Linked DNA regions of Homo sapiens. The protein of the gene in region 3 purifies or fractionates together with the protein of the main gene of each other region. This does not show direct contact. Each region holds a gene or a part of one and is shown on either strand. Other genes may lie near its edges.

Evidence for each region.
Region 1: the proteins of CDH12 (region 3) and FRMD4A purify together in Homo sapiens (affinity purification with mass spectrometry; one large-scale study listed by BioGRID and IntAct). This does not show direct contact.
Region 2: the proteins of CDH12 (region 3) and CTNNA2 purify together in Homo sapiens (affinity purification with mass spectrometry; one large-scale study listed by BioGRID and IntAct). This does not show direct contact.
Region 4: the proteins of CDH12 (region 3) and PCDH1 purify together in Homo sapiens (affinity purification with mass spectrometry; one large-scale study listed by BioGRID and IntAct). This does not show direct contact.

The regions. Positions count from the first base shown.
Region 1 is NC_000010.11:14,323,626-14,328,229, reverse strand, and holds part of FRMD4A (FERM domain-containing protein 4A), read left to right. Parts: intron 1-4,604. UniProt on the Homo sapiens protein: Scaffolding protein that regulates epithelial cell polarity by connecting ARF6 activation with the PAR3 complex. Plays a redundant role with FRMD4B in epithelial polarization. May regulate MAPT secretion by activating ARF6-signaling.
Region 2 is NC_000002.12:79,910,902-79,915,505, forward strand, and holds part of CTNNA2 (catenin alpha-2), read left to right. Parts: intron 1-4,604. UniProt on the Homo sapiens protein: May function as a linker between cadherin adhesion receptors and the cytoskeleton to regulate cell-cell adhesion and differentiation in the nervous system. Required for proper regulation of cortical neuronal migration and neurite growth.
Region 3 is NC_000005.10:22,846,053-22,850,656, forward strand, and holds part of CDH12 (cadherin-12 isoform 1 preproprotein), read right to left. Parts: intron 1-4,604. UniProt on the Homo sapiens protein: Cadherins are calcium-dependent cell adhesion proteins. They preferentially interact with themselves in a homophilic manner in connecting cells; cadherins may thus contribute to the sorting of heterogeneous cell types.
Region 4 is NC_000005.10:141,857,382-141,861,985, forward strand, and holds part of PCDH1 (protocadherin-1 isoform 2 precursor), read right to left. Parts: intron 91-4,604; coding exon 1-90. UniProt on the Homo sapiens protein: May be involved in cell-cell interaction processes and in cell adhesion.

The DNA.
Region 1 (4,604 bases), on a different chromosome or scaffold from region 3:
CTGCCCGGAAAAAAGGATCGTGTTCTCCTCTCTTGGAAACCAGGGGAAAGAGCTCTTGACACCCTGATGGACCGTTTGATTAAAGAACCCTGGAGTACCATGTGTAATCAAAGTCTGTATACATTTTCTGGTTCATGTTTAGTTCAGGGAAATTTTCCCCTATGGACTTTGGTGCTATTTTTTTTCCTTTTTAAGGGTAAACCCCAAAGTAATTGCTTCCCTGACATCTTGCATGATGCATCTTAAAATTTATAAGCAAGCCGAGGAGGAAAGAAAGGAGGAAAAGAGGCCATTTAGCGGAGTTGCTTTGGCTGTGAGTTCAGGAAGGAAGCTGTAAACATTATTATTTATGAGCTCATTCATCAGCCAATCAGTTGTCAGTATTTATCGCGTGTCTGCTCACTGAGGAAAGTAGCCTGGCATAACAGCAAGAGCCAGAGCTCATAAACACACAGTCTGTGGGAGGCTGATACCAGGTTGGTGGATTGCAGTTCTGATTTTGTGCTATGGAGTCATCGGGGCTAAGGGGTAGGTGGGGAGATGATCTGGCCACACCCCTTGCTTTTGGATAAGGAGACACCCAGAGGTTACATTCAGCTTAGATGCTAAATGCTTCAGGGCAGAGCATGTTTAATTGGTTACAGAAGCGGCCACAGAGTCTGGAGGGTTGGACAGCCCTGTGCTCCATTCTAGCCTTGCCACTCATTGAGTGATCCTGGGAATGTCCCTTCCTTTCTCTGCCTTGGTGATGCCATTTGCTAACTGAGAGTGCTCTCTGATGTCTAGGTTCCCTTCCATTCTGTTAAACACAATTTAAGATCTCTAAGAAACAGTGTACAGATGAAGTTCCAGGATAGCCAATTCGAGGGCTTTATTTAGCGTTATGTCTCTATTTCCAACCTTGCACATGAGCAGTATTGCTATGAAAATGGTGGAGTGTGTTCCCACTCTGGCTTTTATGCTAGGGCAGATATGTTTCATATTATTAGCTGACACGGATGATCATTAGTGTTCATTCATACTCTGCCATCAGGAGTCTACCCCACAGGAACCTAAGTTGGTCCATTGGACAAAAGCCAATGACTTTTGAACAGTGTCTCAGAGGCCTTTTCAAGCTAGGGCTGGGTTGCGGTCAGCTGGGAGGGGTCCCAGGTGGTAAGCATGCCTGGACCATCTTGAGGTGGGAGGACCTCACTGATTCTTTCAACGGACAGCTCACAGAGGGCAGTGATGCCTCTCCACACAGGACAGAGCCACTCATATGACCACGGAAGGGGGGACTTGGAGAGAAGACACATTCTGGTGGTGGAGATGGCCTTTTAGGCTGTTGAAAAGCTGCCTCTCCCATCTTTGCAAGAATCTCAGGCAGCGAAAGAAGATACTGCTGTGTTCACCAACCCGTGAGGAGGCTTCAGATTGATGTGACTAATTGTAGAGCGGGAAGCTCTTGGCTACGTGTCATTTGTTGAGGGCGTGTGAGTTCAGGGAAAGCTGCAAGGGCTGGAACATGCTAGAGCCGAGGATTAGTTTATCTTTAGAGCCAGGATAAGGATGAATAACCAAGGGGCTTCAAGGGTGTTATGATGCCATTTCGGTTCTTAGATTATAAAGGCTCACCTTCAGGACAGCTAGATTAAAATAGTTTTTAATGGAAATTAACTGGATAATAAATAATGCAAATTAAGCTTTTCTATAAATGAAGTGTCTTTAAATACATTATCTCATTTAATTCCATCCATGACCCTATTTTTAAGACCAAAAAAAATCTGATAATTAGAATTTGGGAAACTGTCAATGGTCACATAAGTGAAACTGATGAAGCAAGTTCTCAAAATCTCGGTCCTCTGAGTCCCAAGCCAGTGCTTTCTCTGACAGCATATCAAAGCTCAACAATTTGACTTCTAGGACCTTCTAACACTTTGGATTCGCTCCTGAAGTTAGCTCCCCTCTGAACCAGTCAGCATTTTCTGTGTTTCCAGGTGAGGAATCCTGTCTTTCTGTTAATCATCTGTTCTTTTCCATATTGAAGTGTAAAATAAAAAAGGGATACCACAAGTCTGGCTCAAGATGTCTGGCTTGACTCTAGCAAGAAAAAATATTTTTTTATATCGATGAAATAGCTGCCATTTTTTCAAGGTTCTATTCTCTCAGACTCTGTTTCTAGGAAATTACTGAGAGTCATATTTTATAACATAAAAAATTAAATGTATAAAAACTCAATTCACAAGTCAGAGAAGTTAGTGGGTGATTAACCACAATGAATGAAGAATGTCAATTGGATTATCCTGAAGTTTCTTTCCATTCTAAATATTTGATTTCAGATTTCTGGGCTTCTTTTGAATAGACCAGCTCCCTTGTCTATGTTTAATAGATTTCAATGGGTAACCTGCTGTTCTATGAGTTTATCTCCCTCATTTCATTTCTTTATAAATTCTTTTCTAAGCCATTTTCCTCCTTTGGACAATTTCCTTTTTAACTAACCAACAAATATTTGCTGAGTATCTACTTTGTGCAAGAAGAGTACAAGGCAGTGACTGGCTTTAGCATACTTACAGTCTAATTGTCAAGACAGGTTGGAGATACGCAGGAACTGTAACAATGAGAAATTTACAGGACGTCTTCAGAGAATCACATAAGAACTATAACAAAACAGTGCCTAACTCATCACCAAGTGAGCCCTAGGGGGCGCTGGTTGTCAGAGTGGATGAACTTGTTCTTGAAGTTCAAGCAAGATGTTGAGTGATGGATGAGTTAAGAGAGCAGATTTGAGGTGAGGGGAGTGGTTGAATACAACAAAGTCTGGATCTTGTTTGGGAGACGGGGAGTAGACTGGTTTGGGCAGATTTCCTGTAGGTGACAAAGGGTTGCAAGATCAGAAAGGCCAGTTGGAGATGTGATCAAGGTCCTAGTTCTATTACTATAATCTAATCCTTCTCTACATTTGACCTGTGAGAGGTCTAATCTGATAGATTCAGATTAGATCCTGAAAAGAGATTCAGAATTTGTAATAAGCCTATGGCTTTTCCGCAGATCCCAACTGTCAAAAAGCATAGAATAAAATTGAGTTTTGTCTTAAGGACTCTTGCTCTTACATTAATAATCTCTATGTTTTTCAAAGTGCGTTTGCAGATGTTGTCCCACCGGATGTCCTCAACACTCCAGGCAGGTTAGGCAGGACATCTTCCTATTATATGGTGAAGTTGGGGTCCAGAGAAGTCAAAGGGCTTGCCCAAGATGACTCAGATAATTTGCGATAAAATTTAGATACAGGCCAGGTGCGGTGGCTCATGCCTGTAATCCCAGCACTTTGGGAAGCTGAGGCAGGCAGATCACCTGAGGTCAGGTGTTTGAGACTAGCTTGGCCAACATGGTGAAACCCCATCTCTACTAAAAATACAAAAATTAGCAAGGCGTGGTGGGGTGCACCTGTAGTCCCACCTGCTTGGGAGGCTGAGGCAGGAGAATCACTTGAACCAAGGAGGCAGAGGTTGCCGTGAGCCGAGATCGGCGCACGCCACTGCACTCCAGCTTGGGTGACAGAGCGGGACTCCATCTCTAAATAAATAAATAAATAAATAGCATTAAGATAGTACTCAAGTTTTCATGATGGTTCATGCATATGTTTGAAAAAAAGTGATATTGACAACTTTTATGGAAATTTGGAGAATAATAATTACATAGTAATACAGTGAAGCCACCTAAACCACTGTATACAGAATGGGGCCATCCAGGCATGGGGCCCAGGGGAGAGGTCCTAGATATTTGGGTCTAAGGGCGAAACTAATATTTAGTATCATCTATCTTTCTGGTTTATTCATAAGTAAGATAATTGTCAAAAAGTCCCTGAGAAATGGTCATGTCATTGTTACCTCCAAGTCAGTGGCAAAAACCCTTCTTAAGCTTAAATTATTGCACCCAAGGTAAAATTTCCCAATGGGTATCTTTGAGATCTTGCTATTAATATTTTTAGTTACTATTTAGTGTACAAATTTATCTGTTTCAAATGGTGAAATTTGAAATCCATAACTGTAAAACTAACTCAGATGATTTTTTGCTAAATATATTTTTATTTCATTTTCTGCTGGACCTGTTTCTGTTAGTCTAATCGACAGAGACTAACTCAAACTGCTAGCATTGGCAGAAAGGGAAACTTACTGACTGATGTGACCAGGGAGTCTCAGGAATAAAAGAGCTCCAGGAGAAGCTGGATCAAGGACTTTGCATGGTGGCATCTGAACCCTGTTTCTCTGGCTCTGCCATGTCTTGGCTCTGCTTTTCTTTGTGTGGACTTCATTTTCTGGCAGATTCTTCTCCCAGCAGCTCTAGGGTTACTTGTTCTTAGAGTTAGTGAATGTAGGTAAATGAGCAGGACTCTCTTTCATGGTCATCTCTTACAAGCTGTCTTTGGATCTCTTGAATAACAGGCTCTTCGCGGGCCAATTACTGGGTACAGAGATGGAGATTTCTGACTAATCAGGCTGGCTAATGTGTCTAGACCTACTGAAAGGAAGGAAGGAAGTAATCAACTGGCTGATAACTCTGTCTGAATTACATGGGGTGGGAAAAGCAGGTTCCAAAAAAGGAAGAGCTGTATTATCAGGAGG
Region 2 (4,604 bases), on a different chromosome or scaffold from region 3:
CTCACTGAGAAAGCAAAAAGATGTCAATGAGAAAACCTAACAAACTAAAAAAAACAAAATTTGTTTCCTTTCCATGAACCTTCAGATTCTTTGATTTTGGAAGACTTGGCCTTTTTCAGCACACAAAGAATAAAATGTGGATGCATCATGTGGCACCCAGCTGCTTATGAGGACGTCTCTATAGGACCCTGGATGACCAACACTTTCTGTAATTTTGATCCATGGTATTACGTAGGGTGCAGCTAGAAATGTTGACCCCACAGTCTCCCAGCTGAGTGAATCTTTTGAATAGCAGATGTGTCAACGAAGAATGCTTATGAAATCTGAGACGCTGTTTGTTTGTTCGTTGTTGTTGTTAACAAAATAGCAAAGGGCTAATTACATGGATGTGGAATTTGGTTTTACATTAAGGCACGCTAGTGGTTCTATTAATGAATAGTTACTGCCAAAGAAGGAAGTAGAAACTACAGAGATCACAGTGATGGTTAAGATCTCAATATAAATAAATCAGACAAAAAAGTATGTTCTTCTAAATAGAAATCACAGAACGTGACTAAATAAGAGTTGATCAACACGTGACATGTAATTTTCAGTTTGGTGTCTAGAATCCTGCCAACTAGAAGTTTTTCTTTCAGTGTAATCTCATGCAGATCAGCAGAGCTGATGGATTTTTGTATTTTATTGACTCCAGGCACTTTTTGTTTTCTGTTCGCAGCCTCGTGATGCAGGAATGTTTTGTGCTTTATTGAAATCTTAGTTTCTATTTTGACATGGTTACAGACAATACATCAATGGGTATAGTGCTTAAATTTCAAAATGCACAAGTTCTATTCACATTGAACCATCATGATCAAAGCCTGAAATAAAACACCTCCTACTTGACATTTATGTAAACTGTATAACATTTAGTTGGACTTCACACTTGTTTGGTGATTTCAAGGTAGAATTGGATGCAGCCAGATCACCTTCATAATTCCTGTCCAGTGCACTCATTTCTCCTGCTGCACAGTCAATTTGTATTTATTTTGATATAGCATGTATGAATACAAAAACACATACACATCCATGCCCTGACTGAAAAGTCTATTGTAGTTAACAGCAAACAGTAAATCAGTCTATCGTTCCTGGGCTGTTATCTTTCTCTTTCAATTTCATAAGCTCTGAGAATAAAGGTATTATCAAATGATCACCTTGCAAGTTTTCATCCTAATGTGCTAGGCAGTACCATTAGGATAAACAAGTTGTTAAACTGAAAATATTTAAAAATCAGCATAACTGACATTTCTGTTTTCTAAAAATCTCCTCATCAGTCCCAGATGAACATTCCACTTACACAATGCTTGCTTGTGGCTGAAGCTGTTCTAAAATTGTATACATGCCAAATTGTATGACACAGAGGGAGACAGAGGTTGTGGAGAGAAGCTGTGTATCACACCTGATAGAAAAAGGGTCTTCATGGAGCATGGGCTATGACTTAGCCACGTAGCTTCCATTGAGCTCAATAGGATAGCAGTCACATGTTAGATATTTCCACAAATGTGTATTCTACTTAATGAACGTGGGTGTGCAACTTGAAGATGTCAACAGAATTGTGCAGTTAAAAGAAGTGGTGATATTTGAAAAAAGGCTGGGTGAACAGAGGCATGGGGTGAAAATCATCACAGATCATGGCGGTGGTAGAAAGGATGGTTGGAATTCTTTTAGGAAAGCCTTGGCTAGACTTAAGTTGCTTTATCAAGTTGAAGATATAATCCAAAGTGAAAAGATTCTTAAAAAATAATCCCCCTTTAAGTAAACTATTATTATTGTACATATGTGAAGACTAATGGGTAGAGAGAGACTTAAAAGGATGCGCGGCCTATAGATGTTAATTGGGATGAGTGCCGTCAGTGTGGTGGTTGAAGTATTATGCTGAGTACTTTAAATAGTTCCAAATTATAGTGAACACATAAACCTTCCTTGGGAACTTATAATTTTATGCAGCTTTCTTTGGTGGCAGTATAAACATAACATTTTATGGGTTTTATTAATAAGAATATTGTGAGGAATGCAAATTTAGAATATTTTATTCATTCAACAAATGTGTATTGTCTGCTGGCCATTTGTGCCAGGCATTGCTCTAGGCTTCTGGGGATACAGAAAGTACCAGAACAGGTAAAATTCTCTGCTTGCTCTCATGCAGCTTACACTGTTGTGGGAGGAGACAGACAGTAAATACTAAGTGATATGAGCAAGAGTCACTTCAGATAGTGATATATGCAAAGAGGAAGTCTAAAACATGGGAGTTAGAGGACGCTGGGTAGTACTGAAGTTAAGAATGGCCTAGGAAGGTGCGTTGAAAGGATGACATTAGATCAAAGACTTCTCAGAAGTGAGGAAGCAAAGAGGCCTTGAGGAGGAAGGGATGACAAGGTCAAGGGCCTTGCTGTGAATGGGTGCCTGGTGCACCCACCCGTTTGAAGCACCATGGGAGTCACAGCAGCTATTGTGAGTAGAGGGGTAGCAGGAGATGGCGTCTGTATGGTGCTGAGGCATCAGTCGGTGCAGGGTGTGGTGAACCATTATACAGAATTTGACTTTCATTCTAATGGAATGAGAGGCCATTGCACAGTAGTGAGTGAAAAATGCCATGATTCAGGTGCTGAGAACAGGCCACAAAGGCAAAAGGCGTAAAAGCAGGAGGACAGGTGAGGAGGCCCTGCGTCCCGTAATATTCATGAGAGGATGGTCTCTTGGGCCAGGGGATAGCAATAGAAGTGGCATAAAGTATTCAAATACTGACTATAAATAAAATTTGCTTATAAATTAACTAGTAAGAAGAATGTGTCTGTTTTATGAACATAAAATCAATATTTGCATTTTGGATGATTTGCATTTTGAATGACAGTTGCAGTTGTATCAATTGCAGCTCATATGATATCTTCATTTGGTTTTGGTTGCACAGGAAATTCTGATTTACTTGGGTGTTGAAAGTAGCTTACTTGGGCCGGGCACGGTGGCTCACGCCTGTAATCCCAGCACTTTGGGAGGCCGAGGCGGGCGGATCACGAGGTCAGGAGATCGAGACCATCCCGGCTAAAACGGTGAAACCCCGTCTCTACTAAAAATACAAAAAATTAGCCGGGCGTAGTGGCGGGCGCCTGTGGTCCCAGCTACTCGGGAGGCTGAGGCAGGAGAATGGCGTGAACCCGGGAGGCGGAGCTTGCAGTGAGCCGAGATCCCGCCACTGCACTCCAGCCTGGGCGACAGAGCGAGACTCCGTCTCAAAAAAAAAAAAAAAAAAAAAAAGAAAGTAGCTTACTTGGCAATGCCTGGACACTCTGCTAGACAGATTGCATTTGAAAGGGGAGTTAAGTAGAAAAATTTTGTTTCAACGTTGTATCACCAAAAATGTCTAAGTATGGTTCACATTCTTATAAAAGACTAGAAAAATTTAATACTTATTCTAAGTATTAAACTGTAATGCAGAACTGTAAGGAGAAAAATTACTACTTATTCTAGGTACTAAAACTGTAAATGAAGAACAATAAGGAAATTCATTAAACTGTTACTTCTTTATGCACAATTCATGGTTAGGCCTATGATGAGAATATGCAATGAGCAGATGTGCCTGGTCCTTGTTGTGTCTTGTGCTGCTGTACAACCTGTTTCAATTTTATATGCATAAACTCTCTGTGTAGCTCGAATTTTTTTTAAGACTAATTTAGAGCTACAGTTTTCTTAAACAATCATGCAGTTAAACTATTTTCAAATGATGGCAGAGATCCTGGTGGCATAAAGTAATGCTGCTGTTCTCTGCTGTAAAATATGGTGAGACATTTTTAATTGTATTTTTAAAAATAATTACAATTGTATATTTTTTTAAATTTTGGATCCAACTTTTTTTCAAGCCTCTTGAAGCATCTAAGTGGATCCCTGGGGTTAACAATTTATAAACCATTAATATATAGAAGGTATTAAAAGCACATGAAGACATATTGATATGGGAACATATATACATATTACAAGTGTTTGAAGCATTGTCATAGCCTTTGTTAGAGAGTAGAATTTAACATAAAGTGGGTTCCTGAAGGAGCCCACTTGTGAGGATTTGAGGACTAAAATAGGATCTAAAAAGGTTATTTCCAGCCCGGTTTTATGGCCTATACACAGCAAGCCTCCAGCATGCTGTTCCACAACACTAGATGAGTAATACATGAGATGATATCCAGGGCCACGAGATCTCTAAGAATGTGGCTTTTACATTTTTGTATAGTGGAAAAGAAATATATGTTCACTAGAAAGAACAAAAAGACAAAGAAGAAAATAAAACATCTCATCCCCCAAAATAACTGCTAATAATTTGGTATGTGTCTTTCCAATGTTTCTGAGCATATAGGAGTGGTATATTTACACACACACACAAACACACACACACACACACACACACATTACACTTTGCTTATTTTTTATAAAATGGACTCATATTGTAAATGCTGTTTTGCAATCTATTCTCTTTACTCAATATATTGTGAATATGTTACCATATCAATAAACATTCTCTAACCTTATGTTTACTGGCTGCATAGCATTTTATTATATGAATATGTGATAATTCATTTAGA
Region 3 (4,604 bases):
GAAGCAGTAGAATTGATATTGTACCACATGTGGGTGGAATGGAGAGGAGCAAAGTCTCAGAAGTGACCCTTAGGTCTTAAGAAATTGGATGGATAATTATGTTATTTACTGAGATAAAGAAGATTAGGAAAATGGGTATATTTAGGGTGCGGTAAAGAGGGGCAGAAATGAAAAGTCTGGTTTTGAACAAGTTGGGTTTCAAGTGACTGTTAGATTCCTAGATAGAAATATTGAGCAGGCATTCTGAATTGAAGTCAGCAGAGGGATTAGAAGTAAAGGCATAGATTTGGAAAAAGCATCCAGATGGCATTTAAACCCATGCTACTGGATGCAATTACCCCTTCAGTGATTCTCTAGATAGAGAGATGAGTGGGCCTATGATGGTATCCTGGGATGCTCTGATAGATGTATTTACAGGTCAAAAGACACAGAGAACTCAGAAAAAGAGAATAAGAAGAAGCACTCAGTGATGAAAGAATAAAACCAGAAACTAATAAAGAAAAAGCAGATGAAAGATTTAATGTGAAAAAAATCATCTAAACATTAGAATTGCTGGATTTTGAATTTTGATGGATACTGTCAAATTTACTTCCCAAAGATTCCACATTTTACAATCCAGCCAAAACTCTATGAGACAGGTCTGTGCTTTTGTGATGTTTTGTGTGTTTTAAATAAGCATGACCTTCACTTTTGTTTTTAAAAAGTAACACCTGCTTGACAATATCCCTATCTGGAGGTGTGTGTAAACCTCTGGGCCAGGGCAGATCACATGCCATATATTTTCATTTATACCTCTTTCCCTCATCACTGGTGTTATATAATTGTGGCATATAAAAATTAATTGTCAGCAAAATGTAAAATGTTGAGATTTGAGTATATGAAAGAATTTTTTTAATACCGTTGTTAAAATTTTTATTGTTAATGTTTAATATAAATAGGAATTTGCCCTATGTGTTAGGTTATTGACACGACTACAATTCATTCCAATTCCATTCTCAACAACAGTTGTTATACTGGGCTTCCTTCTTGTAGGATCTTATATTGGTGATCTTCTTCTAGTAGGTGTTAAAGCACAAATCCTGGATAGTTATTAATATAACTAGATTTCTCACTATAAGACACTCTTTTACTTGAGAAATTTATTTGAGGTTTTCTATTCTTACCTAAGTAAACATATAACTTAAAGCCTTGCCAAGAGCTTGTTTTGCACTTTTCAGTCACTATCATTTCCTAGTAATTAGGAAAGTGTAGAGTTTCAGTAAAATCTTGCTTTAAAACCTGCCTGCAATCACATCCCTTAAAATAATGGCAACCCCTCATGGAAATATTGACTCAGAAAGTTGCAGGAAGACACTTCATTTGGGTATATTGTTATCTGCTGTTACTTCAATCATTCCTACATTCTTTACTCAGAAATCGTCTTAAATACATCATTTCATTTAGTGCTGATGATAGCACCCCAAAATATATTTTCACTGTAGAATGGAAACTATTAATGTTAATTTCCTCTGGTTTTCAACATTTACTGAGCATTTGAAGCTCTTTCCATTACATTTAAAAGTATTATTTTTGATCGTTTAATTAGCATCACGTTTTGGTTATTTCCTAATAATCCTTTTTTGAATAAACATTGAAGTGCCAGATAAAATTATATGATTTTTAAAAAAATAGTATATCACTGGCATTATTAAAATTAATGACATTTTCTAATTGTATCCCTCATCTATCCTCCAGATATTATAAACTTTCATGTTCACTAAAACTTTAATCCATCATTTAATTCCCTTTTACTGTATGATCAGCCTCTTTCTTTTATTCTTTTTTTTTCTTTCTTTCTTTTTTTTCTTGTGAGACCGAGTCTCACTCTGTCGCCCAGGCTGGAGAGCAATGGTGCGATCTCGGCTCACTGCAACCTCCGCCTCCTGGGTTCAAGTGATTCTCCTGCCTCAGCCTCCTGAGTAGCTGGGATGAAAGGTGTGCACCACCATGCCTGGTGATCAGTCTCTTTTTAATGTTTTCTATTTTATCTATTCATGTGTTCAAGTCTCTATAAAACAAAATACTACAAATTTCCCTTCATTATGTACTAACTCTCTGGTTACCTCCTGTTGTCTCTTTATTTGACATGTTAACCTTTTGAAATATGATGGCAAAACTTTCATCACAATGTAAACTTACTAATTTTTCAAATTCCAGGAATATCCATGTCTGTCCATTGAAAGCATTCTTTTTTTAACCTTCAAGTGATTGTTTTATCTACTTAATCAATCAATTACTGATACTATTGCTGCTTTTTAGTGATTACATTTTAACTTACCTAATGTGGTGCCAGATTAATAGCCTATTCTTTCCTTCAAACAGTGTAACCATCTTGCAAGACTTTATCCCCCAATTTTGTTATTCTTGTCCAGTATTTTAGTTCAATTATGTAACACCATAAATTTGTAATATTATTGTTCATACACGATCAAAGTTTGTTACCCACACCCCCATGGTCTCCATTTTCTTTGCTTCCCAGTCCTTCTTGGATCTCAGATCTTCTGTCTGGGATCATTTTCCTTCTTGAAGCACATTGGTTAGTTAGTTTATCAGGGAGGGATGCTGGTGATTTTGTTTGTTTGAAAATGTCTCTACTTTTCAAAGAGAATTTCTTCAGTGTGTAACTCTAGCTTGGCAATTATTTTATTTGAGTTATAATGGAATTATGGGTACACATTTCTTGGCTCTCCTTGCTGTCACTGAGAATACTGATTCAGTCTAATTGTTATATTTTGTAGATAATCTGTCTTTCTTCCCCATTTTGGAAATCTTTATTTTCTGTATTGTACTTTTTTTATGCTGTACGTAAGTGTGGATTTTTTTTTCTCATCATATCATATAAAGTTTAGGATATATTGTGCTTCTTCAGAGTGAGGACTCACATTTCATCAAAAAATGTTTTTTTTTTAGACAAGTCACTTGGGAACCCCTTTTACCCCAACGTGACAAAATTCAACACATAACAAACCCTGGACATTACATATTTTCTTCCAACCCCATGTTCCAGCTGTGGCTGTAGTTATCCTCTACAAATCTAGCTTAGAGATGAGGAAGGTTAAAAGGAGAAAGACCTGACCATGATAAGTGTTATCTGTGGGGTAATTCAAATTAAATTAACAGAATAACTCAAAGTTCAAAAAGTTAAATAACTTTTCCCAAATTGCTCATGTAATAATCCTTAAACTATGGTTTCAAACAATTGTCTGACTCAAGTTTTGAACTTTCCACATCATCATGTAGACGGTGCATCAGGACTCTCATCTTTGTACATGGGGGATTTTTTTTGTATGTTATAATAATTTTCCAGGAAATTGGAATTATAGAACCTATTGATTTTATGGTGTACTAAAGGTATATTCAACCTTACTTGTATTTAGCATCGTGCTTTGCCGGTAAGTCTAAATACACTACCTGTGTCCTAATGTTTGACTATGTATTTGGACTTGGAACCAAGCATGCATCATTCAGCCATTTGAACACATAGTAAAAACTTAATACATTTGAAGAGGCAAGAGTAACATATATCCATTTGAACACATAGATTTAAGGAATAATACGTAAGTCCTGTATTTCCCTAATGGGTATCGGTGTACAGATTGGAGTCTCATTGTTTCTCACTAGAACCTTCACAGATATATGCATGAGATGTATATATTTTAAGAAGAATTTTACATTGTTCAAGAAACACATATCTTACATTCAAGGTAATATAAATCCATCTGTAGAGCAATGGATTAAATATTCATGGAGCAAGGGTTATGAAAGAAAACCACTGTAAAAAAATACCTGAAGCATAATGAAGATTTAATTTATCCCTTAATACCATCAGCTATAACATGATAGACACAAATCTGAATACAGCTAAATTTATAAGACTGGTAAACATATGCCTTGTTTTCAATAATTTAACAGGTGCTTACTAAATGAAGTGATAATTAATAATTGAGTAATTGAATAATTGAATTCAAAGCATTTATCTATAATCTCACAAAACGTAGAATAACATTATGTAGAGTTCATCTGTAATTTTAGAACAGTCATAACTCTCACTTAATATGTTGTAAAAAAGTTATTTACTCCATTTTATTAATCATCTTATGATGAGATGCTTAAAAACAACTTTGAGTAACTACTATTGATATTCAATACAGGCAGCATAGTACACATTCACACACACACATTTTCCTTTTAAAGTTTGGTTATGATATATTACCCTCCTAGCATAGTAAGTCAGGAAAAAGCTGCAACTGTCTTAAAGCTGAAAGTTAAAAGGCTTTTAAAAGCTCTGAGTTTAAATTGTTCAGTTATTCAGTATTAGCAAAATAAAAAGCTCCCAGTAAAAATAATACATTTTCATTTATTTAACAATTAAATGTATTTTTGGGTACTATTTAAGCCTATTCATAAAAATAAAATGCAATATTTGTTAAACAGGAAGGATAAATATTTTCCACCTATAATTTAACACAAATAGGAATATCAATTGGTACTAGATTATAAGCAAAATGTTCTCTATTGATGTAATGATCACATGATAATTTCTGACATAATTACTTTTAAAACAG
Region 4 (4,604 bases), about 120 Mb from region 3:
CAGGCCACTGTCATAGTAACTGTGCTGGGATGGGTCCTGCAGCTCCTGGGCCTGGCTGGTGGCCGAGAAGGTGACGCGGCGGTGAGGTAACTGCAGGGAGACAGATTGTCACTACTGACCAGCCAGCTTGCCCACAGGGCCCACCACCATACCAGGCCCTAGTACAAGCCAAGCACCATCCTACTCAGGCTTCAACAGCAACCAAGAAGAGACCCAGGCCCCAGCACAGCACATTCCTCCCGAAAGCACAGGCCCCAGTGAAAGACAGCTCCTGAGTTCTAGGACCGCTCCTAGTACAGCCAAGTCCACATACTGGAAGTCCCAATACAGCGCAGGCCCCAGTGTTATTATAGCCCCTATGCTACCCCAATAACCCTCATCCAGTGCAACCGCTTGTTATAGCACAACCCTTCTAGTTCTAACCCAGCTTCCCAATATTGGCACAGCCTCCCTTTAATCCCAGAATGACCTGTAATACGGTGTAGAGCCCAATACCAGAGTAACATAATACCACCCGACTCCCCTAATTCCAGCTCAGCCTCTAAACACCAGCATAGCCTGCAGTTTCTAGAACAGCTTCCTAAAAGAAGCAGACTCCTAACTCCCAAACAGCTCACCAATACCACAACAGTTAGTTCCCTCATTTCCAAACAGCACCCTCCAAACTCCAGCTCCTCACCTGTCTCACTGCTCTTGCCACTGCCTCCTTCCAAATGAGGGAACAACCTTTCTTTTCTTATCCTGTGTTCCTCATCCCTGGTTTGTGATGTTGCAGCAGTCTGAAGACTCCCTGCTGTCGCCCCTCCCACTCAGCCCCCCATCCCCACTTCACTCCCCTCCAGAGAGGCCTGGGAGTGGAAAAAAAGGGAGGAGCCTGATAACAAACCAGGGCACCTGGGGGAAGGGGACAAAGCAGAACAATGGAAACTCCCCAGTCCTCCCGATCAGGAAATAGAATATTCACTGGAGAGGGTAGGGCTCTGCCAGGAGCCTGGACATGGGGAGAGGGCATGGCACCCATTAGGGATTAGGAAAGCTGGTCTCAAAGGGAGACTCCTTCCAGGAAATAGGAAGGAGCTTCTGGGAGGGCTGCTGGCATGAGGAGCCAGACTTGGAGGCTTGGACTGGGGACTGGGGGTCGGGGGAGTGGAACCGTGACAGGCTGCTCCCAGCCAGCAGCCCTGTATGCCTGCCACAGGTTAACGATCAGCCCTGGAACCTGGCAATCTCAACTTGGCACTTGGCACAACCAGCCAGCCACCCAAATACCCACTTGGGACTGCCACAGATTTTCCTGCCAACCAGAAATTAGGAGTTGTGGAGGGTGCAGACTCAGGGTCCCTGGAGGCCAGGGGTGAAAACAGCTAAGCCCAGGGCCCTGCTGATGAGTCTCTAAGCTCCTTCCCATCCTCCAAGACTTTGGCAGTGCTTTGTCTTACTCTATAACTCTGGATAGGAGGTTATGAAGATGGCCAGGGGAGGTGGCCCTGGCTTTGTAGACTTACCCTCCTAATAGCCCCATTCAAGGCAGCTAGGGTGGAAGAGGCTGTCAGGACAGGAGTTTTGGAGCTGCTGTGAAGGTAGCCCAGAACTGCCTCCCCACTATCCCCATTCCTGAAGATGGCTCCCACCTCATCTTCAGGAATAAGCGACCGTTCTTGGAATCCTTGTATTGATCTAAAACACTGAAGGGTCTGGGTGATGACTGATAAGGTCCCCAAAACTAACATGGATGTTTGGGGCCGGGAGGCTATAAAGGAGTGTAGTCCACCTGGTGTAGGGGTGATTAGGGTCCAGGAGGGGTCTGGGAGGCACAGGGCAACATGGTTGTTGGTGCTTCTCTTTCCAGTTTTCTTTCAAGATACTGGCCAGCAGTCCCACCTCCCTGCAGAACCCATATCTGGTAATTGAAGGCTTTGGTCCTGCCTACTAAGCAAGTCGCTTGGTCTCTTTTCCCATGATTCTTTTCCATAAAATGGAGGGTTGGGTTATACCCAACACTTAATGTTCCCTCTAATTTTATGACTATCAAATTATAAAAGCCCAGATCAAAAAATCTCTCTCAAACTCTTTGAGTCCTGAAGCTCTAGACACTTGCTGATTATTTCCAGTTGGCTCTGCCTACTGGCCCTTAAGATTCAACATGTCTGAAACCAAATGCTTCTTCAATTAGCTTCTGTATGGGCAATGATCTCATCACTATCCTATCACCCAGACTCAGAAGGCTGATGTCTACCTGAGAATCCTGGTAGCTCTCCCCTCATTCCCTATCCCTACCTCATATCCAATTATCCCTTGAATCCTGTGGGTCCTTTCTCCCTAACCTTTGCCAAATCCATCCATCCATCACCCCCATTGCCACCATCATAGTCCAACTCTTAGAGGTTCAGTCCTGTACCTTCATCTCTATGCCCTTTTAAGCCCACCATATATTCCAGTGCTCTTTCTAAAACTCAGTTCATCTAAAACACTCATGAGCTTTCAGGGACTAGTTCCTTCTGAAGAACTTTTGGTAAGGCACCTATGTCCTCTACAACCTACAGTTCTTCCAGTCTCATCTTTCAGCTTTCTCTTATGCCCCTCTTCTTGCCAGAATATTCCTTTTTCTGCCCTTTCCCTGCCTCCAACTTGGTTCACTTCTGCCGCAGGAGTTTGCTTACACGGTGACCCTGTGAGGAGGCAGGGGACCCTCCTGCCCTAATCCTGCTCATCATTGACAAGCTGACTTTCTCCTTCCAGAAGCCCATTTCCATGTCTTGTACAAGTTTTCCCATACTGTGCTCGTCAAAGGAAGGGAGGGGCAATATGGTGAAATAAATTCAGAAAACTCAAGAGGTAAACAAAATTGGGGCCAGGCACGGCAGCTCACACCTGTCATCCAAGCACTTTGGGAGGCTGAGGTGGGCAGATCGCTTGAGCCCAGGAGTTGAGACCAGCCTGGGCAACATGGCAAAACCCTGTCTCTACAGAAATTACAAAAATTAGCCAGGTGTGGTGGTGCACGACTGTAGTCCCAGCTACACAGGAGGATCGCTTGAGCCCAGGTGGCAGAGGTTGCAATGAGCCAAGATTGCGCCCCTGCACTCCAGCCTGGGTGACAGAGCAAGACCCTGTCTCAAAAAAAAAAAAAAAAAAGGTTAAACGAAGTCTAACAGGTTCCCCCTTTTTTGGAGGACTCTGCAGAGCCTTTAATAGGCTAATGTGATCATGAATTTCTTACTACCAAAACTAACTTCACCACAGAACGCCTTTTTTATAGCATAATAGGTAATAGGAGACCCGCCTGCTTTGTGTTTGAATTTGGCTGCATCACTATTTAGTTTTCACTTCTGCAAAATTAATATTAAAATGACCCATATCATAAAGAGTTATGAGCACTGATTGAACTAATTCACACAAAGTGCTTAGCATGGTACCTCACACCTAGTAAGGACTCAAAAAATGGAAGTGAGTGCCGGGCATGGTGGCTCATGCCTGTAATCCCAGCACTTTGGGAGGCCACGGCGGGCAGATCGCCTGAGGTCAGGAGCTCAAGACCAGCCTGACCAACATGGAGAAACCCTGTCTCTACTAAAAATACAAAATTAGCTGGGTGTGGTGGCACATGCCTGTAATCCCAGCTACTCAGGAGGCTGAGGCAGGAGAATTGCTTGAACCTGGGAGGCAGAGGTTGCAGTGAGCTGAGATCGTGCCATTGCACTCCAGCCTGGGCAACAAGAGCAAAACTCCATCTCAAAAAAAAAAAAAAAAAAAAAAAAGGAAGTGAGCAGTAGCAGTAGAAGTAGTTTCATGGAATAAGTTGGGAAAAGCTTTAGTAGGGCACTTCTCATTCGACTCAAGACACTCAATTGCCTCATCGTTCACTTGTCTGTCTTGTACAAGTATGGCCATTTTTTCATCAGGGTCTAGTACCATGCTGAGTACTCAGTGGAAACTTGGCCTGTGTGTGTTGATGATGACAACAGGTGGTGTGGTTTGGTTGTATCTGAATGTTGGGAGAAGACATTCAGTGTGGCTCCATGGATGGGTTAGGTTGGATTAGAGCTGAGTAAGAGACAATCCCTCAGATCATGGGAAAGAAAAAGAGATGAAGACGCTAAAGGAATAGGAGAAAGACGGAAGGAATGCCAGAAAGGACAGAAAAGGAAGAGAAAGAATGGGAGGTCAGGAGTTGCTGGAGATCACGATATGGTTAGATCTCACTTCCCCAGGCCCCACTCCTCCAAGGACCCAAGGAGTTTTTACTTTGGGGGCCCCCCAGGGCATTGGGGGAATTTGTGGATGGAATCAGAGGAGAGAGCTGGAGCCTTGGTCCTCTTGGGAGTGTCTCAAGCCTCTTTAGTCACCATGGAGATAGGTTGCCTCTGGCCTCAGAGACTCCCCCAGGGCCTGAGGCCCCTCAGCCACGATTTAGCCTTCCTCCAACTCAGGCACAACCAGAGACAGGGCAGACCCAGGAGAGCAAGAAGTGAGAGATGGAGAGAGAGAGAGTGCAAGCAAGCAACCCAGGGTGGCCAGAGCAAGGAGTGGAAAGTGGGGAGGGAGGTAGCATCACAGGCGGAAGGCAGAACTAGGAAGCCTCTGCTCATGAGCAGGGAACCCCC